4 linked regions of the Homo sapiens genome follow. The protein of the gene in region 1 interacts with the protein of each later gene in a biochemical or structural test. Each region holds a gene or a part of one and is shown on either strand. Other genes may lie near its edges. The genes, in order: PRKCE, UGT1A7, ADAP1 and GAD2.

Region 1 (7,349 bases):
ATGAGGTGAGGAGATTGAGACCATCATGGCTAACATGGTGAAACCCCTTCCTTACTAAAAATACAAAAAAAAAAAAAAAAATTAGCTGGGCGTGGTGGCGGGCACCTGTAGTCCCAGCTACTCGGGAGGCTGAGGCAGAAGAATGGTGTGAACCCGGGAGGCGGAGCTTGCAGTGAGTAAAGATGGCACCATTGCACTCCAGCCTGGGCGACAGAGCGAGACTCCTTCTAAAAAAAAAAAAAAAAACAAAAAACAAAAAACAAAACAAAACAAAAAAAACTCTTCTTGAAGCCAGGCGCAGTGGCTCACTTCTCTTATATAATCCCAGAATTTTGGGAGGCTGAGGCGGGTGGATCACTTAAGGTCAGGAGTTTAAGACCACCCTGGCCAACATGGTGAAACCCTGTTTCTACTAAAAATACAGAAATTAGTCGGGTGTGGTGGCTCATGCTTGTAATCCCAGCTACTTGGGAGGCTGAGACAGGAGAATCGCTTGAACCCGGGAGGCAGAGGTTGCAGTGATCCGATATCATGCCACTGCACTCCAGCCTGGGCAACAGAGCAAGACTCCATCTCAAATTTTAAAAAACTCTTCTTAAGCTTGATTACATTTTTAGTCTTATCTATCTCTTGGGGTCAGGAGCTCAGTGAGTCTACTCCTTGCTGGCAAATACAGGTGACTTTTCACTAACATAAAACTACCTCTTTGAGACTTCAAGGTGGGGTAGAGGTCAGGGATGAGGAGAGAGGAGATCCTCATTTCAGCATCTGGGTTTCATGATAGGCTTCTGTTTTTCCTCCTCTTCCCCAGCACAGTATTACAGATTTCAGTTATATTTCCTCTGGAGTTTCAATTTTGTTTAGATGTCAGTGAGTTACGATGAATTGTATGTTCCTGTCCTCCTGGTTCTCCCAGCACAGTACAGACTTTTGGCCACTTCACATGGTTTCTGACAGAAAACTAAATCTCAAACAGGTGCAACCATGCTGATTAGCATTATAATAGATTGTAATTACTAACAAGCCCATATATACCCAGAGGAACTTGGAGAGAAATATAATGTTTTGCCAAGTGTAGCTTTTATTTATGTAAAATATTGCAGGCCTGCTCTGGAGTTATTTTAGCCTAAGTGAAACCCCTGGAAGCTTTGTCTGAACATGCTTCAATAGCTCTATGAGTTCAGGCGCCGGAATTTGAAATTTCGTTTCTTGTTGCTGCCAACTACAAAGGGTTTTGTATCTAAAGCCCTGATGAGAATTTGAACTTCATTTAAACTCTGCAAATGGAGGACAAGTGGGCCTTTTTCTTCTTCCCTCACCATGGCACCTGGAATGGGCCCTGGGCACTCAGAGGGTAGAAAATTCCTACTTTTGGGAAATTCAGACTTGACGGAGATTCTTCAGCTTGATGCAAATTGCTATGTGGAAATAATATAGCATTCTCTCATAAGAACATCTTCAGGGATCTCATAGATTTTTATAAAATAAAATATCCTTTTCTCCTTCCTCCTCCTCCTCACTTCTTTCAACTGTACAGAAGGATTGTTTAAGAAATTCATTCAACTGGTTTCTATCGAGATGCCATGCTCCTCAGAGGCAGGAACTACACATACACAACTTTTGTGTTACCAAACCCCATATCTACCAACAGTGCTAGACCATAGTAGGTACTATAGAAATACACACTTGTTTTGTGTTCATTCATTCATTCATTCATTCAACAATGTGCCAAGAAATTTATTCATTCATTCAACAATTTATTCATTCATTCAACAAAGTGCCAGGCACTGTTTTGGGTGCTGAGATAAAGCGGTGAACAAAAAGCTCTACATTTATAGAGCGTCTGGTGTTCTGGTATTAGAAATAAACAACAAAGATAAATAAGAAAACTAAATAGCGTATCAGATAGAGGTAAGAGTAAAGAGTAAAAAAAAAAAAAGGCAGGAAAGGCGCATATGAAGCATAAAATAAGAGGGTGAACTTTTAGATAGGATTGCCAGAAAAGGCCTTACTGAGAACATAACATCTGAGCGAAGACTTGAGCCATGTGGATATCTGGGAAAAGGGCATTCTAAAAAAATGGGATGGCAAGGGTAAAGACTGAGGCAGGAGCATGGTAAGTGCATTTAAGGGGTGTCAAGTGGGTCAGGATAGCTAGAGAGGAATGAACAGGGAGAAGAGTGGCAAGTGATAGGGTCAGAGAGGTCACAGCAGAAGGCCTGACTTTGTTGGTCTTGTAAATTATGGTAAGGGATAATCTCACCTGAGAGATCTGTGAGCAGAGACAGGAGCTGAGAAGCCAGGACAGGTGGAAGCAATTCAGAGGCTGTTGAAATAATCCAGGTGTGAGATAATAGTGACTTGGACCCAAGTGAGGTCAGCAAAGGTATGGAAAGGATGTGATCTGAGATATATTTTGAAGGCAGAAAGAGCAGATGTTGCTGATGGATAAGATATGGGGCACCTGAGAATTACAGGCGTCAAGGATGGCCCCTCAAGGTTTTTGGCTGGGTAATTGGAAGGATGGAGTTGCCATTTCTTAAGCTGAGGAAGAAGGGCTTAGATTGAGGAGAGGGGAAAATAGGTATACAATATTAGGCATATGGAGTTTAAGATGCCCTTTACACAATGAAAGCTGAGGACCTGAAGGCAATCCCATATATAAAGTCTAGAGTTCAGGGTCAGGCATGAGCTGGAATTAGGAATTTAGTGTCAACAGCACTGAAAGTGTATTTAAATCCATGAAACTAGATGACATTGGCACAGTAAAACCAAAACACCAGCTCCCAAATATCCTCATTTCCAATTACCCATACCTCTTCAATAAATAATTAACCTTTGTCTACAATGACCGCAGCTTCTAGACTTTCCAGAACAATCTCATTTCAAGTAATTCTATTATCTTCCAAAGGGCAATTTGTTAAGTATAACTAAGTCAAATTTATTTTTAGAGTATGTAAGACTTTTCATATAAATACATTCACAAATCAAGGAGAAAAATATATTTCACTGGACCATATGTTCTGATTTAAGATTCTAAAACTATGAACACACAAATGACTCTTCAAATATTAATAAAATTGCTGAAATGTATTATAGCCAGACCACTTGCTACAAGCTTTATAGTTCCTTATTTAATTCTCATAGCAACTCTGAAAGTCAAGACCTACGACATTTCCATTTTACAGATGAAGAAACGGGCTTAAAAAGCCTAAGTCACATGCTCAAAGTCACACAACTAGTGAGTGGTGGAGATGCCTTCCAGTTAGAACTCACTGAATCCAGGGAGAGCGGTCCATTGAGGAGCCAGGGAATTCAGGGTCTCAAATATTCACTAAATCTGCTGCTGGTCAAAGACACTAAGAAGAAGAAACAGTTCAAACAACGCTTGACTGTCCATGAAGTTGAAGGCTAACTCAGGTCCTTAACTCTAGGGACCCAATGCCAAGAGGTTGTCTGTGATAGCACTGGGCCAAGAATGAATCCTTTGGGTAGTTGTTAAACAACCAGCTATGGACCAATGAGAGCAATATTGGATTACATGGTATTATGGGAGTAGGGGAAAGGGAGATCCAGGGACCCTTGGCTGCTGGGGAAATAATTCAGGGTATAGGCGCACACGAAGGAGGTATGGACAATTGCCAGCCCTTCCCTACCTCCTTACCCCCTTAGTAGTCCCTTCCCACCCCACTGTGTTTAAATGACAATGGAGGTTTCAGAAATCCTTTTAAAAAATTTTTTCCTACAAATGTCCTGAAGATAGAGATGTGCTCTAGAGTAACATATATCAAAGTGCGGTCAGGCTGCCATTGTAGGAGATGCAGCAGGGGTCCTGCTTAACTCAGGCTCCATTCGGGGCATCAGAATCAGCACTGCTAGAGGCTGTGCCCTGGCATCTGTGTTGCATGAATCTCCCCCAAGTGATTCTGGTGGGCCAAGGGAGAACGGCCTCAGAGCCTAACCTCTCCGAATGATGTACAGGCCTATCTCCCAGAGTCCAAACAGGGTATAGGCCTATCTCCCAGAGTCAGCAGGGGTGCCATCATTTTGAAAAGCTTTGCCGATGGGCTACTTGGGAAATACAAACCAGAAATGACACTTCTAGTGTCCCATTCTTTGCCAAATGAGATGGCCAGACTGAAGAGAGCTACTTTGGAGAATATGAAAACCTAGCTTTCTCGTGGCCTATATAATAATCAATTCAGTCAAAAACTCTCTCTAGGCCAGCCCCATGCTCATTTTGGGGGCTATAATAATAATAATTATAGTAGATATGCATTGAGCAGTTACTAGGGACCAAGCATTGGTGTATGCATTGTACATGTATTAACTCATTTTAATCCCCACAGTAAACCCATTTCATTATAGGGAGGTATATTTATTATCACCCACTTTGTACAGGGGAAGGAATGGAAATACGGAAGGTTAAGTCACTCGCTAAAGGTCATGAAAGTGGTAGATGGTAGAAGTGGGATTCAAGTCCAAGCAGTGTGACTCCAGACTTCGCTGCTCCGGGGAATCACCTCTCAAATGATGGCTTTCTGTACCTCTGGATTCTGAGTGCCTGCCTCTTCTACAGAATACAGCAAGGGAGTGACATTCGCCAAAGATGTCTTCAGAGGCAGGGCAGTAGAACAAAGAGGAAACTGAGCTCAGTGTGTAGACTACTGAAGCAATGATAGAGAAAAATCCAAAATGTGAACGAGCCAGCTAGCTGTCACCTGCATGCAGCCCTTCAAGCCCTAATCCTTGCTCCGCCTGCCTCCCACCCCTGTGCTAAATGCAATGCCAATCCATCCAGCATTCATTCAGCCTCTGCTTCTAACATGAATCCCAATACTTCTAGTTCACACAATTATTATTCTAAATCTTTCTTTAAAAATTATAAAGTTATACAGTCACATTTCAGGACATATCTATGTAAAAATGCTTGATCCATTAATTATCTGGAGCCCTCTCTGGCCTGCAATTTCTATTCTAGCCCAATGTTTCTCAAAGCAAGCCTGGTCTGGTCAGAATCTCTGGGACAGCTGGTTAAAAATGTAGATTCCCAGCTTATTCCAAATTGTAGCATCAAAAGCTCTCAAGGTTGGGCCAGAGGATCTATATTTTTATCTATATGGATCTATATAAATCTATATAGATCTATCTTTTATATGCCCTCCCTTACTGATTCTTATGTACATGAAAGTCTGAGTAGCGTTATTAACTGGTTCTTGGAAAACCCAGCTATAGCAATAGTGTTATAATAGATTTTACTTCAAAGCATCAGCAAAATCTTTCCTTCTCTTTGTAATGAGCTTTCTCTAAAGCAACCTCCTTTGTCATCACAACTGAAACATCTCTCATTATCTGGAGAATAATTATCTCAGCTTGGCTTTTACGCATTCTAGAATTCACCTCAGTTTTCTAAACTTTTTCCTACTCCAATGTTTCCGAAGTGTGGGCCCCACATCACTAATGATGTTCAGAGGCACTTGGAATGAACTTTGTTTCTGTATTGTAGAGCCCTGTTTATTTTAATGTGAACAAAGAAAAGTTATAACTACATGCTCCAAACCTGTGATTTCATGAATAGTGGGGCTTAAGAAAAGACTACGTGGAAAATAAAAGAATCAATTTTTTAAATATTAAGTAAATGAAAGCACAGGCAGTACTCAGAAAAAAGTCTTAAATTTGGGAAACCTTGTCCTGCCCACTCCTTTCTGACAGGTACACTCAGTTTCTGTCCTGCTCATCCATTCTCCAACCCTGACTACAGGATTGTCTGCCTTTATTCCTGCGGTGGCCATGCCAGGAACACTGCTCCTTCTTGTAGATACCTCTTTAAATATAACCTACTGTTTCACACTCAGCTCATGCCTCCTTCCAAAAACCCTCCTGGATTCTTCCAGTTCTCCCTACCTTTTTTTTTTTTTTTTTTTTTTTTTCAAGAGACAGGGTATCACTCTGTCACCCAGGCTGGAATGCCGTGGCCTGATGGTCAGATCATAGCACACTGCAGCCTTGAACTCCTGGACTCAAGTAATCCTCCCACTTTGGCCTCCTGAGTAGCTGGGACTACAGGCACACACCACACCGCAGGTCCAGATTTGGCTAATTTTTAAGTTTCTTGTAGTTATGGAGTCTTACTACGTTGCCTAGGCTGATCTTGAACTTCTGGACTCAAACGGTCCTCCCAGCTCAGCCTCCCAAGTAGTTGGGATTGCAGGCATGAGCCACAGTGCCTAGCCCACACTCCCTTTTTAAACTCTTAACACACTAATGGTACCACCTGTGTGGAACCTAATTGCTAGTTAAGTGTCTACATCAGGGTGTCCAACTTTTAGGCTTCCCTGGGCCACATCGGAAGAAGAATTGTCTTGGGCCACACATAAAATACACTAACACCAATGATAGCTGATAAGCTAAAAAAAAAAAAAATGCAAAAAAACTTATAACGTTTTAGGAAAGTGTACAAATTTGTGTTGGGCTGCATTCAAAGCCATCCCGGGCCACATGTGGCTAACAGGCCATGGGTTAGACAAGCTTGATGTATATGTGGGTACTTGGTGTCAATTCCTTGGTGAAATGGAAGCCCCTTGAGAGTAACCCAGGGCCTCATTTTCCTCTGGATGGCCCACAGTGAGAAGCTTCCCTGGTTAGACATGAGCACAAAACAGGAACTCCAGGAATACAAGTGAATTCAAAGTGCGGCAGAATTCGGTGTTCCGCAAAAATGAGAGAAACGGCTGCTTTATGCTATCCACATCCCCTTACTTCAGGCCAGATCTCTCAGCCACACCTGAGAAGGGTGTGTTTCTTCATTCCTGCCAGGTAAGGAGTGAAGAGACCTGAGCCCAGGGAATTCTACCCAAAGCTATGAAACCATGGGTTTACCCTGAATGTTAAGACTGGGAAAGGTGAACTTAGCCCAGCTGCAACTTGTCTCCATTTCCAGGGGCCAGTCACCCCTGCCAATGAGTCCCCACCTTCAGCCTGGAGGAACCAGAGTGGCTACAGCATCCTCTGGTGAAAACAGATGGGCATTCTGAACCTGCTCCACTGCTTGACTCATCCTTCAGACTTTGGGCTTCTCTATCTCAAGTTTTTTAGTTTGTCCAATACCTGCCATACCTAATTCACAGTTGCTATAAGGCAAAAGAGATGAAGTTATCAAGTACAATAAAAATGTCAGGGACACAGCACATGGATCTGCAGGGAGAATAGGCTGGGAGGCCAGATGGGCAGGCTCGGCTCCCCATCAGACAAGCCATGGGCAACAGGCGGTGAGGGCCCTACTTCCAACCCACCTTTGCTTGTCATGTGACCCTCGGTCCCCAACTAGCTTCTCTGGAACTCAATGTCCT
Region 2 (7,687 bases), about 190 Mb from region 1:
CAAAAGCCTTGCCAATACCATAAACAGTCAATTAACACATAGTTTGTATGTTATTAGTATTATATCCTGTATTATGACAATGCAGCTAGCTAGAGAAAAGAAAATGTTATTAAAAAACGTAACATATGAAAAAATGCTCAACATCACTAGTTACCAGAAAAATGAAGATGAAAACCACAATAAGATATCATCTCACACCAGTTAGAATGGCTGTTATTAAAAAGTCAAGAAATAATAGATGCTGGTGAGGCTGCTGAGAAAAGGGAACACTTGTACCCTCTTGGTGGGAATGCAAATTAGTTCATCCCCTGTGGGAAGTAGTTTGGAGATTTTGCAAAGAACTTAAAACAGAACTGTCATTCGACCCAGCAATCCCATTACTAGATATATGTAAAAAAAATCGTTTTACCAAGAAACACATGCACTGGTATGTTCATTGCAGCTCTATTCAGAATAGAAAAGACATGAAATCAACCTAGGTGCCCGTCAACAGTGGCTTAGATGAAGAAAATGTGGAACACATACTCCATGGAATATGCAGCCATAAAAAAAGAATGAAATCATGTCCTTTGTAACAACATGGATGCAGCTGGAGGTCATTACCCTAAGGGAATATATACAGGCACAGAACACCAAATACCATTGTTTTCACTTAGAAATGGGAGCTAAATAGTGGGTACTTTTGGGCATAAAGATGGCAACAATAGACACTATGGACTCCTAAAAGGGAGAGGAAAGGCTGCAAGAGTTGAAAAACTATTGGGTACTATGCTCAGTACTTGGGTGATGGGAGCAATCATGCCCCAAACATCAGCATCACACAATATACTCAGGTAACCTGCACATGTACTCCTGAATCTAAAATAAAAGTTGAGTATGTATAAGAGGAAGTCATTCATCATAAAGGTCTCCATCCTCATCATCTTCCATTGAGTGGGCTGTGGAGGAGGAGGAGTAGATGTTGATTTTGCTGTCTCAGGGTGGCAGAGGCAGAAGAGGTAGAGGAGGTGGAAGTGGAGGCAGGAGAGGCAGGTGCACTTGGTGTAACCTTATGGAAATACATCATAATTACTGTCTGTTTTTTTCTCTTTGATGTATTTAAAAATGCTTTTATACAGTACTAATCCTTCTTCCCCATTTGCTTTAGTTTCAGTGCCCATAAGGGTTCATGTCTTAATAGAAGTCAATAGCAGTCTTAAATAATTGGAAGCATTTCTATGAGGCTTGTATTGTGTAAGGCCAATTTTTTTTCTGGCACTGCTTCTTCTACATCTTCTTTCTCATCAAGTACTGATTGGAAAGCACTCATCTCTATCAGGTCATCTATTGATTCCCTGAGTGTGGCATCTATTGGCTCTTGAATTTCTCCAAGAGTCATATTTTGAAATACCTTATCCCCAACATTTTGTTGCTGTATCCATAATCCCTTCATGACTTCCTTGATTGGCTCTGTCATAAATCCTGTGAAGTCATGTGCAACATCTGGTCACAGTTTTCTCCAGAAGAAATGTACTGTTTGGGGCTTGGTGGCTTTCAAAGCTCTTTCTATAATAACAGTGGCATCTTCAGTGGTGTAATCCTTCTGGACTTTCATGACATTCTCTATCCAGATTCTCTTCCATAGTATTGACAACCTTTTCCATAGAAAACTGTGTGTAATGAGTTCTAAATTTCCTTAAGACACCTGATTGAGAGACTGAATTAGAGATGTTGGGTTTGGAAGCACGTAGACCATTTTGACACCTTCAGTGTTGAACTTGTGGGTTCTGGGTGGCTAGGGAATGGTCCAATATCGAAAGAACTTTAAAAGACAGTCCCTTGCTGGCAATGCATTTTCTGCCTTCACGGACAAAGCCTTGATGGAACCAATCCAGAAAACGCGTTCTTATTGTTGAGTCCTTCTTTTTGTACAACAATAAAACTGTCAGTGAGTGTTGATCTTTTCCTTTCAAGGCTTGAGGTTTGGCAGTTCTACTGATGAGGGCAGTCCTGACTGTAAACTTGACTGCATTTACACAAAACAGTAGAGTTAGCCTATCCCTTCCTGCCTTACATTCTGGTGCTTGGTTTTCTTCCTTGCCAATAAATGTCTTTTGTGTCATCTTTTTTTTTGTTTGTTTGTTTTTGTTTTTTCCAGAATAGGGCACTGTCATCTGTATTAAAACCCTGTTCAGGCAGATATCCTTTGTCCTCAATGCTTTTCTTCATGGCATCTGGGAACTCATCTGCCTCCTTTTGCTTGGCAGAGGCTGGTTCTCCTGTTATCTGGACAATTTTAAAGCCAAACCTCTTTGTAAAACTAGCAAACCATCCTTTGTTGCCATTAAATTCTCCAGTTTTAGATTCTTCACCTCTCTTTTGCTTTAAGTTGTCATAAAATGACTTTAATTTTTCTCAAATCACATTGGCATCTATAAATAAGCCTTTCTTATAGCAATCCTACACCCACATTAAAGTTGCATTTTCAATATGAGACAAAAATGTATTTCACAAAAAGATGCGAGGTTTGGCTCCTGCTGGCATAGCTGCAGCAATGTCTTCATGAATCTTTTCTTCTCTTTTCTTTCTTTCTCTCTCTCTCTTTTTTCTTTTTCTCTTTCTTTCTTTTGCAATGGTCCTTATCTATCTTCATTGATTTTGAAATGGCAGGCAATCATAGCGGCAGAGCTCAATCTACGGTACCTATCAAGTAATTCAAGTTTTTTTGGTAATGTCATGATTTTTCTTTGCTTCTTGGGAGTACTTGCAGCATCATTAGTTGCACTTTATAGTCCCATGGTGGTATTCAAGGTTTAAAAAATTACACTAAACATGATGAAAAATACAGTAGAACCATAAGAGATCATTTTTTACTCTGACATGCAATTTACTAGAGAGAAGAAACGCGCAGAGGGTATAAACGTCATATCACATGCATTTAGGCCACACTTTAGCTCCCTGCAATAGCAACAGGAGGTAGCAACAAAATTATTATAGTAGTGTAGTATGTACTAGAGGAAAGTGACTAAGCAAATGTCTAGTACCAGTTAGGGTGTCCTGGAAGGAACCATCTTGTGCTTCTACAAGAATTATGCCCTGAGGTTGGCTGTTGAATCCCTCACGAAATGCTCCTCAGTGTGTTGCCTAACACACACTGCTGAGCTCACCCATTAAAATCTGCATGATGGAATTCAGCCCAATGCAATGAGAATTCCCATGGACTTCCTCTGTGCAAGGCAAAGCATGGGTGCTGTGGAAGGAGGATGAAAACAGGTAGAAGATGTAATCTCATCCTCAAGGGGTGCTCGGTAGAATGGAGGAAACAATACATAGATTCCTGAAGATGAGCACCAAAGTGATTGGGGTGGGCCCATAGCAAAGGCCTGCAGCTCTGTTCAGAATGCAGAAGCAGAGTGGGCAGAGAGAGACAGCTCATTAGAGTGCTTGGGCAAGCATAGGGACGGCGACTCACCACTGCAGACAATGTATCTGAGGAAAGCCATTTAAAATAGGTGACAGTCACATTCCATCAAATTTCTGGAAGGGTCCATGGAGGCAGGGTTGTCAATCTCATTACAGCATTTCAGAGGCCTCAGAAGATTTGGAAATGAAAAAAGACAAGCAGCACTTGTGGCTCACCTGTGTCACAATTGTGGCTCACCTGTGTCTCTGCAATGCGCAAGTGAGCTGTGTATTGCAGAGACACAGGTGAGCCGCAATTTCCTCCCAGTTAGGAGGTCAACGCTAAGACCCTTGCTCTCTTTCCGTCGAACATGAGATGCCAATTTCTTTCTGGGCAGAGGACAAAATAAAAATTGTCTATAAACTTTGGCCAGGTGTAGTGGCTCACGCCTGTAATCCCAGCATTTTGGGAGGCCGAGATGGGCAGATTGCCTGAGCTCAGGAGTTCGAGACCAGCCTGGGCAACATGGTGAAACCCCGTCTCCACTAAAATACAAAAAGTTAGCTGGGCATGGCAGCGTGCGCCTGTAATCCCAGCTACTGAGGCTGAGGCAGGAGAATCGTTTGAACCCAGGAAGTGGAGGTTGCAGTGAGCCTAGATCTTACCACTGCACTCCAGCCTGGATGACACAGTGAGACTCCATCTCAAAAAAAAAAAAAAAAAAAAAAAATTGCAAATTTTTCTTTGTGACAAATTCCAAAATTATTAGCTTCGTTCAAATTTACTTTCCTTTTTATCTTTCAATGTCGTCAAGGCCAAAAGCATTGCTTAATAATTTTGTTTCTAAACTCATATTGCAGCACAGGGCATGATCTGTCCCCAAGGCAAAGATGATGAGTTACTCTTTTCTTGAAAACATATAAGCAGGTATCTCAGCAAAGGCTACTCATGTATTATTATGAGTAAATCATTGGCAGTGAATGTGAATTTTTTTTTAAATGAATGAATAAGTACACGCCTTCTTTTGAGGGCAGGTTCTATCTGTACTTCTTCCACTTACTATATTATAGGAGCTTAGAATCCCAGCTGCTGGCTCTGGGCTGAAGTTCTCTGATGGCTCGTGCAGGGTGGACTGGCCTCCTTCCCCTATATGTGTGTCTACTGCTGACCTGTGGCTTTGCCAAGGCAGGGAAGCTGCTGGTAGTGCCCATGGATGGGAGCCACTGGTTCACCATGCAGTCGGTGGTGGAGAAACTCATCCTCAGGGGGCATGAGGTGGTCGTAGTCATGCCAGAGGTGAGTTGGCAACTGGGAAGATCACTGAATTGCACAGTGAAGACTTACTCAACCTCATACACTCTGGAGGATCAGGACCGGGAGTTCATGGTTTTTGCCGATGCTCGCTGGACGGCACCATTGCGAAGTGCATTTTCTCTATTAACAAGTTCATCCAATGGTATTTTTGACTTATTTTTTTCAAATTGCAGGAGTTTGTTTAATGACCGAAAATTAGTAGAATACTTAAAGGAGAGTTGTTTTGATGCAGTGTTTCTCGATCCTTTTGATGCCTGTGGCTTAATTGTTGCCAAATATTTCTCCCTCCCCTCTGTGGTCTTCGCCAGGGGAATATTTTGCCACTATCTTGAAGAAGGTGCACAGTGCCCTGCTCCTCTTTCCTATGTCCCCAGACTTCTCTTAGGGTTCTCAGACGCCATGACTTTCAAGGAGAGAGTATGGAACCACATCATGCACTTGGAGGAACATTTATTTTGCCCCTATTTTTTCAAAAATGTCTTAGAAATAGCCTCTGAAATTCTCCAAACCCCTGTCACGGCATATGATCTCTACAGCCACACATCAATTTGGTTGTTGCGAACTGACTTTGTTTTGGAGTATCCCAAACCCGTGATGCCCAATATGATCTTCATTGGTGGTATCAACTGTCATCAGGGAAAGCCAGTGCCTATGGTAAGTTATCTCCCCTTTAGCACATTAAGAATAATCTGGCTTTGGAAATTAAAAGATTTCTTACAGAATCATAATTTATCATTTACATTTGTCCCATTTGGAATTTCTTTCTGGTTTAAGGAATTCTTTTGTACCAATTCACTTAATTGTTGGGTAGCAAATTGTATAAAGCAGCTCTTGTTGATATGTAAGTGTATACAATTGATATAATTGTAGATCATATCTAGGCTGCAATCTAAATGCTATTTTTGGAAAAATACAAAAAAACCACAGTAAGAAATGAAACTTCCCTTTTTTTGCTAATTCTACACTACCCCCAGAGGAAAATATTCTTAGCAGTTTTGTGTGAATTGTTTTCAATTTTTTTGAAATTATACTATGTATATGCATATATTTAGGGTAAATTGTCACTTCTATTTTATCAATATAAAATCTACTATCATGCTGGCTATGTTTTTTTATGTTAGATTTTTCTCTTGTCAATAAGTTAAAGATATCTTTACAGGTCAATGCATACAGATTTGACATGTTCTTTTAATAATTGCATGGTAGTCTTTACTTTGGATGCAATGTAGTTTTCCAACCAATTAAGATTGATAGAGATTTAAGTGTTTTCCACTTTTGGGGTTTATGAGCAATAATAAGAATTCTTGTATACTTTCTTTACATTATATATATTTTCATATTTTTGCTTTTATCTCAGTAGGGTATCATCCTATGAGTATGGTTGCTTGGTTTTCACTAAATGAGTGAGATTGGCCTTCTTTTGCTATTACATCTTCCTACTCAAGAATATGAATCCCTCATTATTTATTCGGATTCTGTTTTATTTCCATAAATAAAATTTTGCACTTTATAAAAGTATTTCATCTTTCTTATTAACCTTTATTCCTCTGCATTTCATTATTTTTGAAACCATTATGTGCAAGGCAATTTTCCCATTTCTCTTTTGAATTCACTATGCATAATTAATGTACTGCTTTGAGTTTTACACATTTATCTTGTATGTAGTCATATTACTAAACTCTCGTATTAGTATGTAAGGTGTATTAAGTATGCAATATCATCTGCAAATTATTCCCTCCCCTGGTATTTATACCTCTTATTTTGGCGGAGCATATAGTTCCAAAATATTATTAATATTGTTGGTCTAGCCAGCTTAAATTAGGATTTGGTCACTTGCAATTGAAAAAGTCGTGACAAATACAAGAGTAAGATTCTTGGCAAATGCATAGTTGCTAAATCCAGGTGAAACACCTGGTGTCTGATCTAAGTATATTATTTTGTTAGGGATGGAGTATACATTTTTATCTATTGTTCTGGCTTCTTACAAAGTTCAGTAGACTTTGTAACACAGTCACATTCTCTCTCATATTGGCAGATGTTTGGTGAAAGAGTGACTGTTCAACCAACTCATGGGAAAATGCAACCAAGCGCTTTCTAAAAATCAGGGAGACTACAGTTGTAGGCCTTTCAAATGAAACATGACTTTCAGCTCTTGGCAAGACCAGGCGAGGAGATGCAAGTTGTAGGACGCTAAGAGGATAGACTTGTCAAAGTGTCTCTCCCCTGTTTACCCTCCATCAATTACAGCACCAGCCATCACTCAGGTATTGCCTGCAGCCTCACCCTCTAGCCAAGTGTGTGGCCTGCCACTTTCTGAACCCATGCTGAGTTTGTTGTGGCTCAAAGGGTCACCCAAAGGGATTTAGAGATGTAGAAATTATATATGATTCTATACCACCTATAATGGTATATGATAGAGAGATCTATAAAATATGAAACATTGAGCCATATATAGTTTTACATATTTTGGTTATTTGTATATCTTCAGTGGTGTATAAAATATATGCATTTATATGCCTTTAAGGAATATACATATGATAGGATTTATAGATGTGGAAGGTTATGTATTAATGTATATATTTATAAATAGAAAATAAATATAATTATCAAAGAAGAATTCAGATCATAAAGAGTGCCCTTTGGCAAAGAGCCCTGGATATGGCTCAACCACAAAAGTAAATTGTCATAGAAAAATTTATGGACACTGTATAGTGTTCCTTTCTTGTTTCATATGGGCAGGGTGTGTCTTGGAAAAGTATACAGTTTTTTGTACCTTGTTAGACAACAGGATTCATAGTCTGCATTTCATCTGTCTGATGAAAAGAAAGCATTGCTTGATGATGCAGTGTGTGTGTATGTGGTGTTTGTGCACGTATGTGTCTGTATGTGCAGGTGTGTTTGTGTGCAATGTCTTAAGCTCTGCACAGGAGATTTTTTTTCTGAAAGGTTTCCTATAACAAAATCTTATTGAGTCTATCCAGGTGAATTACA
Region 3 (8,231 bases), on another chromosome or scaffold:
TTCTGCCGTCCTCGGGCGCATACCGGGGAGTGGGTTTCCAGGGTCCCACGGTAGCTCCATGCCAGCCCGTTTTCCAGGGCGGCTGCACCGTCTTACACCCACCAGCGCTGTGGGAGGGGCCAGCTTCCCCCATCCTCACCGGCACTGTCTGTCTGTAAATCCTAGCCTCCCTCCACCGGCCCCCCGCCAGGTCTTCACTGCATCCTGGTGTGATTGGCATTTCCCTGACGACTAATGGTGCTGAATATTTCCGGTGCCTGTCGGCGGCTGTGTGTCTTCCTTGGGGACGCATGTGTTCAGATTCTTTGCCCTTTTTTTAATTGGTTCACTTGCCTTTTTATTACTGAGTTGTATGGGTTCTTTATAAGTAACTGTTTCTTGAGGCTGCACCAATTTGGGTGTGAACTTTGTAAACACTACTGCCCGATGGTCGCTGCGGAAAGGGGCCAGGGCTGGTGGGGGGAGAGCACCTCCCGGGGTCCCGCGTCGGGTCTGGGCCTCCTCCCCATGCCAAGTGCGTGATTCCGGCCCCCGAGGACCCTGCTGGTCCCAGGCCTCAAGAGATGGCACCTGGGGAGACCTGGGCCGTGACTGGAGTGGTCAGGCCAACGCCAGCTGCCCAGCGGGGGAGGAAAGGATGGGGGATGGCAGGACCCCTGCCCGGGCGCAGTGCCCAGCTCCATACCTGCCACCAGCCCGTCGGTTATGGGGATGGCTCTCCACGACCCCCTTCTCCACTCCAGACCCCATCTCTGTTTGGAAAACCAAGCAAAAGATATGTTCAAATGCCCCAAAACCCAGTAAGCCAACCTGTGCACCCACCTCCATGGCATGACATCTTGGGGAGGCCCCTGAGGACTCCCTGCTTCCAAAGGGGTTTCCGGGTCTAGCCCCACTCCCAGAAAATTGTGCTGAGACCACCTCTGGTCCTGGGTGGTTCCCCCTCCCCTGCATTTCGGGGCGCAGTGGCTATTTCTGGGGAATCCCCGTGTCTCCTTTAAGCCCCTCCTGAGCAGAGCTCTTTAGGATCCGTATGCTGCTGAACTCCTACTCCAGGTGCCCGAGGGGTGGCAGGGCCCTCACAGCAGTCAGAAGGCCCAGGAGGGTCTGCGCAGGGCCAAAGGCACGTCGCAGAGGACAGGGTGGAGGCCACAGCCAGTGGGCTTCCCTGGAGGGGGCCGGCCACATGGGGGCCCAACATCACGACCCCCATCCCCACAGCTGAGGCAGGTAGAGCCAGGAGCTGCCCACCCCTGCGCTGAGCCTGGATGTTGAAGACCCCTGCTTGGCCTGCAGGGCGGCCTACTGAGCTCACGGCCATCGTGCCAGACGCTGTCCAAGCGCAGATAATTTGACTGAATTAGCCCCGGCCCCTGTGCGGGGTGGAGAGGGAAGTGAACCTCCACAACCTCCCCTCCCCTGAGGCAGCTCCTGGTTGAGCAAGCTCGGCTGACTGTTGGGCAAGATGGTCGCAGAGCAGGGCCCAGCCCGGCCTCAGTCCATTTGCCCCTTCCCTGGGGAGAGCCCCCTTCTGCCTGTGCTGAGAGGCTCACCCCGCAGCTGCAGGCCTGGGAGGAGCCAGCTTCCAATCAAAGTCGCCTGCTGGCCTACCACGCGCAGGCCCCGTGCTCAGGCGACGCTGGAGGAGCTCGCCCTGCTCTCGGGAGCCCCCTGCCCAGGGTCTGCTGTGTGGCCGAGTGGTCACAGGAGGCGGCTGCCTCTGGCTCTGGACTAGGGAGATGCTTGAGGAATGAGTGTCAGGGTCCCTGGTGCAGCCGTGCGGGTCAGTGACAAGGGGCAGGAGGCTCAGCAGAGCTTGTAGGCCACTGGGCATGAGCAGGAGCAGGCACGCCGCCTGTCCAGGCCCCTCGCCAGCCGCTGCTGGCCGGAACAGCCTTTGACCAGCACTGGTCTGGGTCTGGCCCACCCTGAGCTATGCTGTTACCTTCCGGATTCTTCCTGAGTCCTGGGCTCCCCTACTGCCCCGCCCAGCCCTGACCACAGCCAGTCAGGGCAGCAGGATTTCAGGACGGCTGTGCTCTCGGGTCCAGGCAGGTACTTGCGGATCTCGGCCGAGCAGCCTCCTCTTTGGAAGAATCCCCCTCAGCCCCGACATCTCTTAGATCTGAGGGGTTCACCCACCTCTGTCTCATCCTCACGCCCTCCTGCCCCCCGAGCAATGCCACAGTTCCCTTAGCGGGATGGAAGGACAGAGAAGGCAAGACACTCGCCTGCTGGAGCTGCCCCACGGAGGAGGCCCCGGAACAGCAGGCAGTAGATGGCCTTGGCTTGTGCCAGAAGCTCTGGCCTGTTGGGCACCGGCTCCCCTGAGGCCTCCCTGCTGCCTTTTCTATGCCTTGTATGATGGCCTCCCCGTCTTTGGGGACCTTGGGTAACGGCTATGTTAGGGTGTGTTGCTTTGTTATATTGTTTTATGTATATTCCAGTCCTGAGGTGTGTGGCCTCCAGCAAGGGATCGAACCTCCCCGTGCCTCAGTCTTCCCAGCTGAAAATGGGGCTTTAATAAGAAAATACATGTCGGCCGGTCGCGGTGGCTCACGCCCATAATACCAGCACTTTGGGAGGCCTAGGCAGGCGGATCACGAGGTCAGGAGATCGAGAGCATCCTGGCTAACACGGTGAAACCCCGTCTCTACTAAAAATACAAAAAAATTAGCCGGGCGTGGTGGCATGCACCTGTGTCCCAGCTGCTGGGGAGGCTGAGGCAGGAGAATGGTGTGAACCCGGGAGGCGGAGCTTGCAGTGAGCCGAGATCGCACCACTGCACTCCAGCCTGGGTGACAGAGCAAGACTCTGTCTCAAAAAAAAAAAAAAGAAAAAAGAAAATACACGTCAAGCCAGGCGTGGTGGCTCAGGCCTGTAATCCCAGCACTTTCAGAGGCTAAGGCAGGCAGATCACGTGAAGTCAGGTGTTCGAGACCAGCCTGGGCAACATGGTGAAACCCTGTCTCTACCAAAAAATAAAAATATACCTGGGCATGGTGGCACCCATTTGTGGTCCCAGCTACTCAGGAGGCTGAGGCAGGAGAATCACCTGACCCCAGGAAGCAGAGGTTGCAGTGAGCTAAGATCGTGCCACTGCACTCCAGCCTGGGCGATAGACCAAAACCCTGTCTCAAAAAAAAAAAAAAAAAAAGGAAAAAAAGAAAAGAAAAGAAAAGAAAATAGAAAATACAAGTCAGGCTATTTCTCCTAATACCTAGTGCTGAGCTGCTGCTATTAATGTTCGTCTGTCTTTATTAGGCGACATTCTCCAAGCTCATGCTGTGTGGTGGATTCCGAGCCTGGCACAGGGACCCAGAGATGAAAATGCCACCTGTCCCCACCCCAAAGCCTCCCGTCTGAGGGAGGAGAAAGACCCATGTGAACGGTTACAGGGAAAGAGCACGTGATGCCACAGGGCACAGATCCCAGAGACACAGACCAAAACGGGCTGCCGCGTTCTGCTTCAGGTAGACAGAGCTTAAGCAGCTCCATGATTCCACGTCAGCTGGAGCAGGGGGACAGGTGCCTTTGGTGGCACTCTGGTCAGTGCAGCCTCAGTGGAGGCCATTCCACATCCCATACCATTGCCCCAGCGATGCCACTTTGAGAGCAAATCCACACAAAACTCTTGCAAAGATGAGGTTGTGTAGACCATGATTCTGATGCATTCAAAACGCTCTAAATGCCCCTATGCCAGTGACTGGGTGAACAAGTCATGGTTCAGTTGAACTTTTTTTGAGTTTGTTTGTTTGGTTTTTTTTTTTTTTTTTTTTTTTTGAAACGGAGTTTCACTCTTGTTGCCCAGGCTGGAGTGCAATGGCGCAATCTCGGCTCGCTGCAACCTCTGCCTGCCAGGTTCATGCGATTCTCCTGCCTCAGCCTCCCAAGTAGCTGGGATTGCAGGCATGCGCCACCACGCCTGGCTAATTTCTTTGTATTTAGTAGAGACGGGGTTTCACCATGTTGCCCAGGCTGGTCTCAAACTCCTGAGCTCAAGTGATCCACCCGCCAGGGTCTCCCAAAGTGCTGGGATTACAGCCGTTAGCCAAAACCCTGTCTCGATAAATGAATAAATAAATGAAAGGCTACAGGCCTCAGACGTTCGTTCTGGAAGGTGCTGAGGAATTTGTTAACAGTGGTTGCCTGGAAGGCAGTGGGGAGAGGCTTTCCTTTTTCAGTCTGGTATGTTCCAGTTTGTTTTCAGCCGGGTGTACTGCATTAACCCTGCAAGAAGAAAATGGAAAGAATTTGAAAAGATGCTGGGGTGTGCAGAGGAAGGGCACGCGAGTCTGGGAAGAGGTGACATCAAAACCAGGTTTTTTGTTACCTGTCAGCCCCCATGTGAAGTCCCGGCGGGGCCCCTCAGCCTGCCTGAGTGGGAGGGGTGCCCAGAGGGTCCCATCTGTGGGTGGTGGGCGGCTGGGTGGGTCTCAGGGGGAGGCTCCGTCTGGGCCCTGTGTGGCCTCAGTGCCCTGGGACGCTGGCGTTTGTCACCTGCTGGCCGTCCCTCCCAGGCAGGGATGGTGTGAGCGCCCTGGTCCTGGTCCGTAGCACAGGACACGCACACCTGCCTTCCACGAGCACCCCCATGCCCATGGTCTTGGGGGGCTCGGCAGGTGCCCTCTGCGCCCCCCACAGTAGGTGTGCAGGCTCCGTCCCACCGCGCGCGGCGGCACGAGGGTCCCACCCAGGCCGGCCAGGTTTTGGGGCGGCCTCGCGCCCAGGCAGGTGGGACGCTGCGCGCGGATGGGGGGCGGGCGGCGGGCGATTTCCCAGCGGGTCCCCGGGGCGCGCGGGCTGGGGGCGCCGGAGCGGCCGAGGGAGGAGGCCACACGCTCGCCTGCACCGCTGGGGGCCGCCCGCGGGCCTTGCCGGCCAGAGCGCAGCGTGCGCCCCGGGCCCCGCGCCGGCACTCGCTCAGCGACCGCGGCGGAGACACGAGCGGCGGCGGCGGAGCCCAGAGGGCGGCGGGAATGCGGAACCGGCGCGCGGGCTGAGGCCGCCCGGGATGGCGCAGGGGCGGCGGCGGCGGGCGGCCTGCGCGGGGCCCTAGCGAGCCGGGCTGACGCTCCCGGCCCCGGCCCCGGCATCGGCATCGCGGGCGCATCGCGGCCATGGCCAAGGAGCGGCGCAGGGCGGTCCTGGAGCTGCTGCAGCGGCCGGGGAACGCGCGCTGCGCGGACTGCGGCGCCCCGGGTAGGTGTGGGCCGGGTGGGCGCGGGGCCGGGTGGGTCCGGGGTGGGCGCGGGGTGCCGGGCGGGTCCTGGGTGGGCCCCGGGGACCGGGCGGGGGAGCGCGGACGCCGCGGGGGTGGCGGCGCTGAACACCGGGCCGGATCGGCGCTCGGATGGGGCCCGGGCCCGGCTGCACCTGCGGGGACCCGGACGTCTTCCCGGGCCGGGCGCAGCGGGGGGGCCCCCCCCAGGACCCCCGGAAACCCCCCTGCCGCCGCCTCCCCTCCCCCGCCGGGCTGCGTGTCTGACGGTCACCGCGGACCGCCCGCCGCGTTGCGAAAGCTCGGGCTCCGCACAGAAAGAGGAAATCGGGGCTGGCTGCAGGGAGGGAACGGGCCGCCAGCCGGAGGTCTCTGCTGGGCTGTGGGGTCCGCCGGCTCCGGGGCCACCTCGCGGTGACGTCATGCCTCACGCCCTTCCCGCACCGGGGGTCCCTGGGTGTGAGCGGCGCCCCTGCCCCCGGCTCCCTGCACCTGGCTGCTCCGGGGCGGGCGCCAGGACAGGTGAGGCCTGGGAGAGGTGGGGCCGGACGCAGGTCCTGGTCCACCCGCCGCCCGCCCGTTCGTTCTCCCGGCCGGGCATCCCTGACTCGGTTCCCAGGTCTGTGGGATTTCAAGGCACTGGAGTCCAAAGGCGCGGAGTCCCTCCCTTCCAGGCCACTGGTCCTGTCATTGGCTGTGAACGGGGCCCAGTGCCCAGACCAGCCCTGCCCTGCTCGGGAGCTGTCAGCCCCAGGCCGGCTGCGCTGTGGAGAGAGGGCCCCGCCGGAGCAGTCCCGCCACCCCAGGCACACCAGGAATCTGGGGGCCAATAGTCTAAGCCCCTCGGAACAAACCTAAACTCACCGGCGGTGACTGAGGCCCCCAGGGAGGGAGCGGGGGAAGACCTTGCATTTGCCTCCAAGGCCCTGGTTCAATATGCAGCCTCTGGACACCCCGGAAAAAGGGGTGTCCCTGATTCCCTCTGGGATGGAGGGGTCTCTGCCAGCCCCAGGTCGTGGTGGCTGCTGTCCAGCTGCAGCTTGGCTGGAAAGGCCACATCAGGAGCTGGGGTGTCCCAGAGGGGAGATAGCGACAGGCTTTTCTGGAAAGACAGGCAGGACCCACGGCCTTTCCATGGTCTCCTGAGACAGGACGGCCACAGGGCCCGTGCAATGGTGCGGTGGGGGTGGCCCCCTGGGCTGGCTCACCCCAGACTCTCTCCCCACAGACCTTTATTTCCTCCTGTTCAGGAACGCTCCCCAGGAAAGCCAGTGGGAAAGGGCCTGGCCTGGGGTTGCTGTGGCCCACGGGGAGGGGAGCTGGGCTTGCCTCTGAACCTCTGCTCCCTGGCCACACAGCCTGGGAGCAGCTTCTCTGGACTCAGGGCCCCTCTCCAGCCACCCTCTGGGCCTCCCAGCCTGGCAGGAGGAAGAGGGGACTTCCTTGGCCTGCTGGGTCCTTCAGTGGTCCTCCCCTCCCAGTGGGTGCAGGTGTGCCCGGCCCACCTGCTAAGCTTCCAGCCTGGCCCACCCCAGAGCTGTTCTCTGCCGTCCCTATGCCCCACGCTGCCGGGTAGAGGGCCGCACCTCTGCCTTTTCAGAATCTGTCCATGACCTCAGTGACTTGTCTCCTCTGTCGGGTAGCGCCATGGAGGGGGGATGCTGTGAGGGGTCACTCTCATTTCACAGCCAGGGAGACTGATGCCTTGCAAAGGGAGCTGTCTTAGGGGACATGAGCCACACCCGGCCGCTCTGCTTGTCCCCGCTCCCCAGGGCTGTGGCCACAGGGTGGAACAGGCGGTGTCAGGAGGCAGGGGGCTGCCTAGCCCCCCATGACCCCATGGCACATCCTCGAGGGCTCTATGCTTCTTTGCTGATGCCAGCTGCTCTGGGGCCTCCTGTACCTGCTGTGGCCCAGCTGGGTGACAAGGAGCCACTCCAGTGTTGATGGGGGCTGGGGTGGCCGGCACGTTCTGCTGTCCTCAGAACACTGTCCTGTGCACTGGCTCACGGCTGGTGCAGACCTGGACAGCAGGACATCAGACAGTCCCAGACCACCTCTGAACGCCAGGCCTGGGGCTGCTGGGGTGGACTTGAGCAGGCCCCACCCACTGGCCGTGTGAGGGAAGCAGTCTTGGGGTCTCTGCGGCCCCCACAGAAGCTCCTTCCAAACTCTCCCCATGACCTGTCCCAATAGTGGGTTCCCCTGACCTTGAACAGGGGGCCTCGCCCGGCGGCCACCCAGAGAGCCTCTCATCACAGGCCTGGCAGGTGGGCGAGTTGGGGCGTGCCTGGACCCACTGTCCTGCAAGACCTGGGTGGGGGTCTCCATCCTGGGAGGGGGTTTGGGGGAGGGAGGGGTGCCTCCGTACATCCTTGGAGCTGCCTGCCAAATCGCAACAGAGGACAGGGACCGGGCGCGGTGGCTCACGCCTGTCATCCCAGTGCTTTGGGAGGCCGAGGCCGGAGGATCGCTTGAGGCCAGGAGTTGGAAGCTGCAGTGAGTCGTGATCACACTCCAGCCTAGGCCAGAGTGAGACCCTGTCTCAAAAAAAAGAAAAACACACATATTGTCCTCTTTGAGTCTCAGGCCATCTGATGCCCCGGAAGGACTGGGGTGTCTGAGCTCTTTTGTTCTTTTTTATTTTAAGGTCTCGCTCTGTCACCCAGGCTGGAGTGCAGTGGCACAATCTCAACTCACTGCAGCCTCTGCCTCCAGGGCTCAAGCAATCCTCCCACCTCAGCCTCCTGAGTAGCTGGGACTACAGGTCCATGCCACCATGCCCAGCTAATTTTTTTTTTTAAGACAGTCTCTCGATGTCACCCAGGCTACAGTGCAGTGGCACGATCTTTGCTCACTGCAACCTCCAACTCCCAGTTTCAGGAATTTGGCCGGCATGGGTGAGGGTGGGAAGAAGGCTGCTGAGTGTGGGCGGGGGCTGGGCAGACTCCCTTCACTCCCCAGGGCAGCGGCCCAACTAGGTTGGATATTTTTTTTTTTTTTTGAGACG
Region 4 (7,349 bases), on another chromosome or scaffold:
CTTAAAAAAAAAAAATTCTAATATGCGAAAATTTCACCAATTAAATCCTCTATTGCACTTAATAACACAGACTTTCAAAGAGTCTGTATTAAATATAAGTCCAGGCTACTTCCTTACAAATTTAGTATTAAATCCACTGCTAACCTTTGAAAAGTCCTCCAATCAGTGTAGGACTATAAAAGCTGACAGAACCAGATAATGATCAAGAATAAAAAAAATTAAAATAAGAAGATAAAGAACCAGAAACACAAGAGGTGATCAATAGACCAGCCCTTTTGATTCTTGTTTGGTAAACATTGGCACAGCCCACTTGCTGCCCCTCCCTGTGTCCAAGGCATGTGTGTGGCGTCACATCCTCATAGTGCCCCAAGCATTCATCATCTGCACTGCCTCAGGGACAAAGCGCCATCTGCAAGATCATAGTCCTGACAGAGCAGCAGGAAGCACACTGACTGGATTCTCGTGTTTACCACCCTCATGAAGATATGACTGTATTTGCTTTATTAATAACTTCTGTTATCCAGATATTTGTCCCCAAATAGTGCACTCTGGAAAAAGGCTTATGAGCCACTATTAGGTTTCCTAAATGTTGTTTCCCTTCCTTATTCTGGAATATGCCTAAGGTATTTGCTATAGACTGAATTTTTCTGTCCTCCCAAAATTTATATGTTGAAATCTTAACCCCTCAATGTGATGATATTAGGAGATAGGGCCTTTGGTAGGTGATTAGTTCAGGAAGGCACAGTCTTAGGGACCCCAGAGAGCTCCCTTGACCTCTTTCTGCCATGTGAGGATACAGGGAGAAAAAGGCCATTGACGAACCAGGAAGTAGGGGTTCCAGCAGACACGGAATCTACTGGCACCTTGATCTTGGACTTCCCCGCCTCTAGAACAGTGAGAAATAAATTTCTGTGCTTATAAGCTACCCAGTCTATATTAGTCTGTTTTTGCAGCTCAACCACGCTAAGATACAATTTTAGCTCAACAAACGATTTTTGAGTTCCTATTGTGCACTACAGCTATGAATCAGGCAAGATGGTACAGAGTAATTTCTCTGCCTTGTCTTGTCCAGAATTTAACTTTGTTCTTTTGGTTCACATAAACTGCACAGGAAACTCTGCATTTCCCCAAATTTTGAGTCTATATCGGCCTGGACCAACAGAACTCTGTGCAGTGATGGAGATGTTCTATATCTGCACTGTCCCATAAAACAGCCATTGGGCACAAGTTGAGTGACTGAAATGTGGCTAGTGTGATTGAAGAACCAAATTTTTGGTTGAATTTAATTTTAATTGATTTAAATTTAAATATGAATAGCCACATGTGGCTATTACTACCATACTGGACAGCATAGATTATTTCACCTCAGTTCTTTTCCCTCTGGGACTGTGTGTGTGTGTGTGTGTGTGTGTGTGTGTGTGTGTGTGCATGCGTATGAATATTTTACTGGTTCCTGGACATGATACTTTAAGGGCGTCACACTTAATAAAGAACTTTCCAGAAAGTCTGAAAAAATCATTGGCATACGTGAACAAAAGTTAAACTTGGTATTCATGTGGTTCTATTTTCATTTCCAAATCTGAATTGCTGAATTCTCTTGATTACAGTAATAAAATTGGAGAAAAATCAGGAGAATTCATTCTGCAATCCCCGGAGATTTTCATATTTGAATTGTCAACAGTATAAAAACAGTTTACTAATATTCTAATTGCCATCTCCAGGAAATAATCTCCATCCCCATTCTTCATTACAGCTCATATGAGGTGCTGAAACCTAGGAGGCATTTGAAGAGTGATATTTAAAAGGGGGAGCCTCCAAGTTGACTTTTGTTCAGAAAATGATGAAAAAAAAAAGTTTTTATTCTGTATTCCCATCTTGCTCCATCCCTCAGCCCAGTGATAATGGACTGATTCAACAAATGAAATCAGCCAAACTAGTCCATGGATTCTCTTTCTGGCCAGTCAGTTCAATAAGGAAGTGAAAGCCAAAAAGAATGGAGGCATCTAATTTCTAACTGGTTAAATAAGTCATTGTTAAGAAATTTTACATTATGAAGGTATACCATAAAAATTCCAGGAAAAATAAGAATTTTTTCCTCTCAAATGACAGCAGACACCCGCACCCCCTATTCTCGTTGTTATTGCCTGCACCGATCATCTTATCCAATGCGACCTCTACTCATTCCCTCCCACCCTGTGGGCTTGATTTCCTGGAATGAACCAACTTCACGAAATCATCAAACACAACCACAGCCCCTTCCATCTCAGACACATGCACCACGGATCCTGGTTCTAGAAGCTTTCTTCCATTTTTTCCTCTAGATCAGGGGTTCTCTAGCTGAGGTGCACATTGGAATCATCTAGATAACTTCCAGAATCATTCCCAGGCCCATCCAAGCACAATCTGATTACATTTTCAGGGTGAGACCTGGTCACTAGTGTCTTTTATGAAGTTTCTGGATGATTCTAATGTATGGCCAGGATTGCAAATCACTACTCTAATTAGGAGGCTTGGTTTAAAGACCTCAGCCATATGGAAGTTTCCTCCCGATGAGGAGTTTGATCTTGGGTTGCTTAAGGACAGATGTTAACACATAAAAGCTTTAGTGAAGGTTTTATATCTACACAAAATCCTCTTCTTCATTTTACGTAGAAGGAACTAAAGTGTTCCCAAAGGTCAGTGAGACAGCCCAAGCTCCTGAGCAGTGAGGGGACAGCCTGCGGGGCTCTTGGCAGTGACTGGAGGAGGTTCCCTCTTTTATGATAAATGAAAAGAACCCCCAAACCAACCAAATCAACTCTGAGATCCAAGTCTACATGACCATCCCTAGTTTCGAATGGGGGACAGGTCCTGCATATACCCCGCTTCGATGTGCACTGTAAACCCCATTTCACCCATGTATAAGTGCTGGGAGCAGGAGAGGATGAAAGATTAATGGTGTCTTACCACAGTACCATTTAAAGCTCAAGCCCTTAGGCTCGGATGCAGACTTTCTGCGAGATTTTGGGAGTTACATTTTCTCCCTGTGGGTCAGTTTCTCCATCAGCAAGATGGGTGGACAATCCTTCCCATGTCAGGTTGCTCTGAGGCTTTAAGTGACCTAACACCTGATATTGAGCTGGGACACAATGCACACTCAAAACAGTGGCTGTTATTATTGCTCTTTGCCCTCTTACCTTCTAGGGGTCACCACAGCTCTAAGGACACACCCAGGGTAGCCTTGACCTTGGCAGCTCAAGAGGGTCAGCAGCAGCGTTGTTTGCTAACCATTTCTGGTACCTAAAGTCTCTTTTGTGCTTGTAACTGAGCACCAGTTTCACTTGGAACATCAATGAACTTCAGCAACGTCCTTGTTGCTTTGTGAATGCCAGCAAAGGTTATCGCCTGACTACTTCTTTCAAGACATCATAAACTCACTCTCAGAAAACAAGCAAATAGAGTTGTTAAAAGTCTGCATAGGCCGGGCACAGTGGCTCATGCCTGTAATCTCAGCACTTTGGGAGGCCAAGGTGGGCAGATCACCTGAGGTCAGGAGTTCGAGACCAGCCTGGCCAACATATTGAAACCCCATCTCTACTAAAAATACAAAAATTGTCTGGGCGTGGTGGTGAGTGCCTGTATTCCCAGCTACTCGGGAGGCTGAGGCAGGAGAATCGCTTGAACCCGGGAGGTGGAGGATGCAGTGAGCTGAGATCACGCCACTGCACTGCAACCTGGAAGACACAGTGAGACTCCATCTCAAAAAAAAAAAAAAAAAAAAAAAGAAGAAAAATGTCTGCATATATCAGGCTCTATATGTCCTGGCTCTGTAGGAGTCCACAGACGGGAATGGGCCCATGTACCCAGGTAGGCTGTCTCCTAAGGCCACAGGCATATGTCATAAAGAAGATGTGCACATGAAAGGCTCAATACACACATGTATCAGAGGAGCTTGGAGCACTGACCTTCGAGAGGCGACTCATTCTCTCTTCATTGTCTTCCAGAGTACGCAAGCTTGGAGGAATGTACCAGAAGCAGACATTTGTGTGCTGAGGCTACAAAGAGGAAAGGAAGATTCACATTTGGCCCAGGCTGGCAATTTTGAAAATTCCAAGAACATTTCAAATCGATGTATTCAGCAGGTTCAGAACACAATTCCCACTTTTCAATCAGGAATTGCCATTGGAGGGCATGATTTTGACAACGTTATATGGACCACTTTGAGAGTTTCGTCTTTATTCCAGCTTGGAATAGCTACCCCGTCATCCACTGCTCCCCTCTGTAATCGTCCCACTTACCTGGACAGCACATCATTTACATCATATCAGTGATGAGGGTTGGAATTGACTAAACTTTCTGAGATTGTAGAAATCCAAATACATACCTTCCCATCAAACACCATCTCATATCCTTCTCGGTTTTTTATGATGTTGTATAAATACTCTGCCAACTCCAAACATTTATCAACATGCGCTTCAAACCCGGTAGTCCCCTAGGTAAGAGAAGGACACAGCTCATTAAGCAGGCTAAGAGTGCGGAGGAAGCGATTTCCCTGGAGACTGACCGTCATCCTGCCGTCTCTGTCTTAGCCCCGTCTGGCACTTTCTCAACACAAGGCTGTTTCCAAAGGCTTTTTCAGCGCTATTTTCTCTTCAATGCTCTCCCCGTCAGGTGCTTTTGTTCCCTTTCATTACTGCTTTCTACACGGAACTCCTTTTCTTCCAGAGCCTCCATTCCCCAGGCAATTAGTTTGACTACTCAAGAGGAAAATGTGCCTCTGCTATTCATAGGAATAATCATGGAAGTCATTAATAACAGGAGGGCTGAGCTACTCTCTTCCTGCAGATAAAAAGCATCACCAGAGACCCCCCAGAATGCCTGCTTAGTTCCCCTCCAACGTGCACATTTTCCATTCCCAGAGCCCATCTTTGTCTGCCAGTGTACCTGATACAGAAAAAATTGGGTAGGTGCTCACTGACTTCATTGAACAAATGGATGCAGGAATTTTAGGGAGCACCCAGATGCTTTGTTAGCCTGTCGAGCTCTGTACAGTTCTCCTTTGGGGGCAGATAAATGACTCACGTGTCTGTAATGGGTGAACATTATCACTGATTTCTTTTAGTTTCTGGCTCTGGAAGCTCTGAATCCAGACTTGGGAAAACCAACACAACAGTCTTGGACTGGAGCTGTTTAACTGACATCGGGACACACAAGAGAGTTACTTTTCAAAATGGCTTTCCTCTTATCTCCTTGGGTGTTTACTGGGTGCTGATGGAGAAAGCTTAAGAGTAAAAGCCAGTGCTCATCTCAGAAGCACTTTGAACCTGCCTACCAGTAACTTCTCCAGCAGAGAACCTAGAGAAAGCAATTGTAATGGAGATGAGATGGGCCCACTTGCCTGTTTCATACAAGATCACATCATCTCAGCTAAGGGGGCCCAACATAGCCCAGTGACTTGTGACATCTGAAGCAGGTTTAAGAACAAGCTGCCCTGGAGATATCAAATGGGTTCAGAAATTCACTTCTTTGGAGACTGCTCCCCCAGGTAATCGGCTCAAGGAGGCTGATGGGTTCCTGATGCCTCCCCAAGAAGAGCTTGGGCTGATGCCTGATGCTTGGCCAGCACCCATACCAGGAGCTCTCTGCATCTATGGGTGCTAAGGAGATTATAATTGGTTTGGAATGACCTGACAGTTTGGGTTCACTTGGGATGGACTGTAGGTAGAAGTGAGGGAAGCTAATTGCTCTTCTCCAACCTGGATCCTTTGGACCAGTCTGGAGTTGGGTTTAAACTTTTGCATATCTGATCTAGGATATGGCATGACCAGCTTGCCTCTGACCCTGTCCAGATGAATGGCTTTGGCCAACTCTCTGATCAGATGGGAATGATGATGCCTCTCTGATTTCCCATGAAGAAGAGTTTGCACTGCAACAGCAATGGGATTACTAAAGACCTCTGGTTCCCCTGGTCTGGGACCTTGCTATGGGGATGATCATGGGCCATGTGACTGCCCCTTTAGTTGGGGGCTAAAGATATACATGGGGAATGACACAGAAAACTCTAGTGTGCCCTGGGTGCCTCCCGTTCATATTGAATATTTATGGGATTAAGATCCACATTTTATTTTCAAGGTTTTGAAGGCTTTTAGGAGATTCTTCAAAATTCTTTCATTCATTAAATACTTCAGCAATCTCACCATCCAAGTGTTCAGCTGCTGCCTCTATGTGGTCTTGGGGTTTGACATCTTGAGAGCTGGTCATGATCATTCTCCACTTCTTGAAATGCTTTTATAAACATTCACAGGCCCCAGAGACAGTGCTTTTGAAATAACTACCGAATCCCTTGCTGTTATCTCAATTTTTGCTGCTATCACCCTAGTTCAGGCTCTGTTACTTTTCACCTGGAACATAGCTCCCAAGTCGCCCTTCAGTCAATTAGACTTTCCCTCACTTTCATAATATGCACTGAACTCCTGCTCAACCACTCCGTGGAATGGCCTTCTCACAGCACTGCTGGGTGAAATCCTACTTCTTCTACCTATCCTGTTCAAGTCCTATCTCAAAGGTCATCTCTTTGTGAATCATCTTGATTCTTAAACCAGGAATGAGCTCTCCGTCCTTTAAATTCCCCAGATGTGTCTGGATTTCTTTTGTGATCAGTCCTAATCTGTCTTTTATGATGGATTTCTGTGCATTTATCTTATCTTGTCTGGAAAATGAGAGCCTTCTTATCCCATTCAGTACTAGACACGATAATAGATGCTGAATATCTACTTGTTAAAATAAATTAATATTTTAGAGAGAAAGTAAACATTCATTTTCAGCAAAGGATGCCAGATGTCCATTTCCCTTTAATATTTTTTTCCTGGTATTTTTTTTCACAGCCATTTGCCAGTCCCTCTGTTATCCACATTTTTAATTAGAAAAGCTAATCATAAAAAAACCACAAGGAAAACTGACTATTTGTATGACTACATACAAACACAGAGATTTGCTATGAAACCTTGGTTGTTATAAATGAAGTTATTCCTGCAGGCCTGAAAAGGGAATGTAGGAGAATCGCTTGAACCTGGGAGATGGAGGCTGCAGTGAGCTGAGATCACGCCACTGCACTCCAGCCTGGGCAACAGAGCAAGACTCCATTTCAAAAAAAAAAAAAAAAAGGTGGGGGGGAGATGTAATTTTAAGTTTATTTACTTATTTTTGTTAGCTACTGAGTTTTAGCCACCGTAGAAATCTGTCAACATTGGGAAATAATCATTAGGTCCTAGGATTATTTAATAAAATGCAGACAAAATGAAAGGCCAACTCCGTAAGAGGAGAGTCAACGGTAGGCACTGGGCCTTTGCTGATGATAATAAAAATCCATA

What was found.
Region 2: of the proteins of PRKCE (region 1) and UGT1A7, one has a biochemical effect on the other in vitro, tested with the Homo sapiens proteins (one study listed by IntAct).
Region 3: of the proteins of PRKCE (region 1) and ADAP1, one has a biochemical effect on the other in vitro, tested with the Homo sapiens proteins (one study listed by BioGRID).
Region 4: of the proteins of PRKCE (region 1) and GAD2, one has a biochemical effect on the other in vitro, tested with the Homo sapiens proteins (one study listed by BioGRID).

Annotation. Positions count from the first base shown.
Region 1 is NC_000002.12:45,654,428-45,661,776, reverse strand, and holds part of PRKCE (protein kinase C epsilon type), read right to left. Parts: intron 1-7,349.
Region 2 is NC_000002.12:233,677,443-233,685,129, forward strand, and holds the start of UGT1A7 (UDP-glucuronosyltransferase 1A7 precursor), read left to right. Parts: upstream 1-4,458; 5' UTR 4,459-4,495; coding exon 4,496-5,350; intron 5,351-7,687.
Region 3 is NC_000007.14:951,367-959,597, reverse strand, and holds the start of ADAP1 (arf-GAP with dual PH domain-containing protein 1), read left to right. Parts: upstream 1-4,917; 5' UTR 4,918-5,120; coding exon 5,121-5,202; intron 5,203-8,231. UniProt on the Homo sapiens protein: GTPase-activating protein for the ADP ribosylation factor family. Binds phosphatidylinositol 3,4,5-trisphosphate (PtdInsP3) and inositol 1,3,4,5-tetrakisphosphate (InsP4). Regulates the incorporation of CD63 and CD9 into multivesicular bodies.
Region 4 is NC_000010.11:26,289,587-26,296,935, reverse strand, and holds part of GAD2 (glutamate decarboxylase 2), read right to left. Parts: intron 4,472-7,349; coding exon 4,364-4,471; intron 4,035-4,363; coding exon 3,945-4,034; intron 1-3,944. UniProt on the Homo sapiens protein: Catalyzes the production of GABA.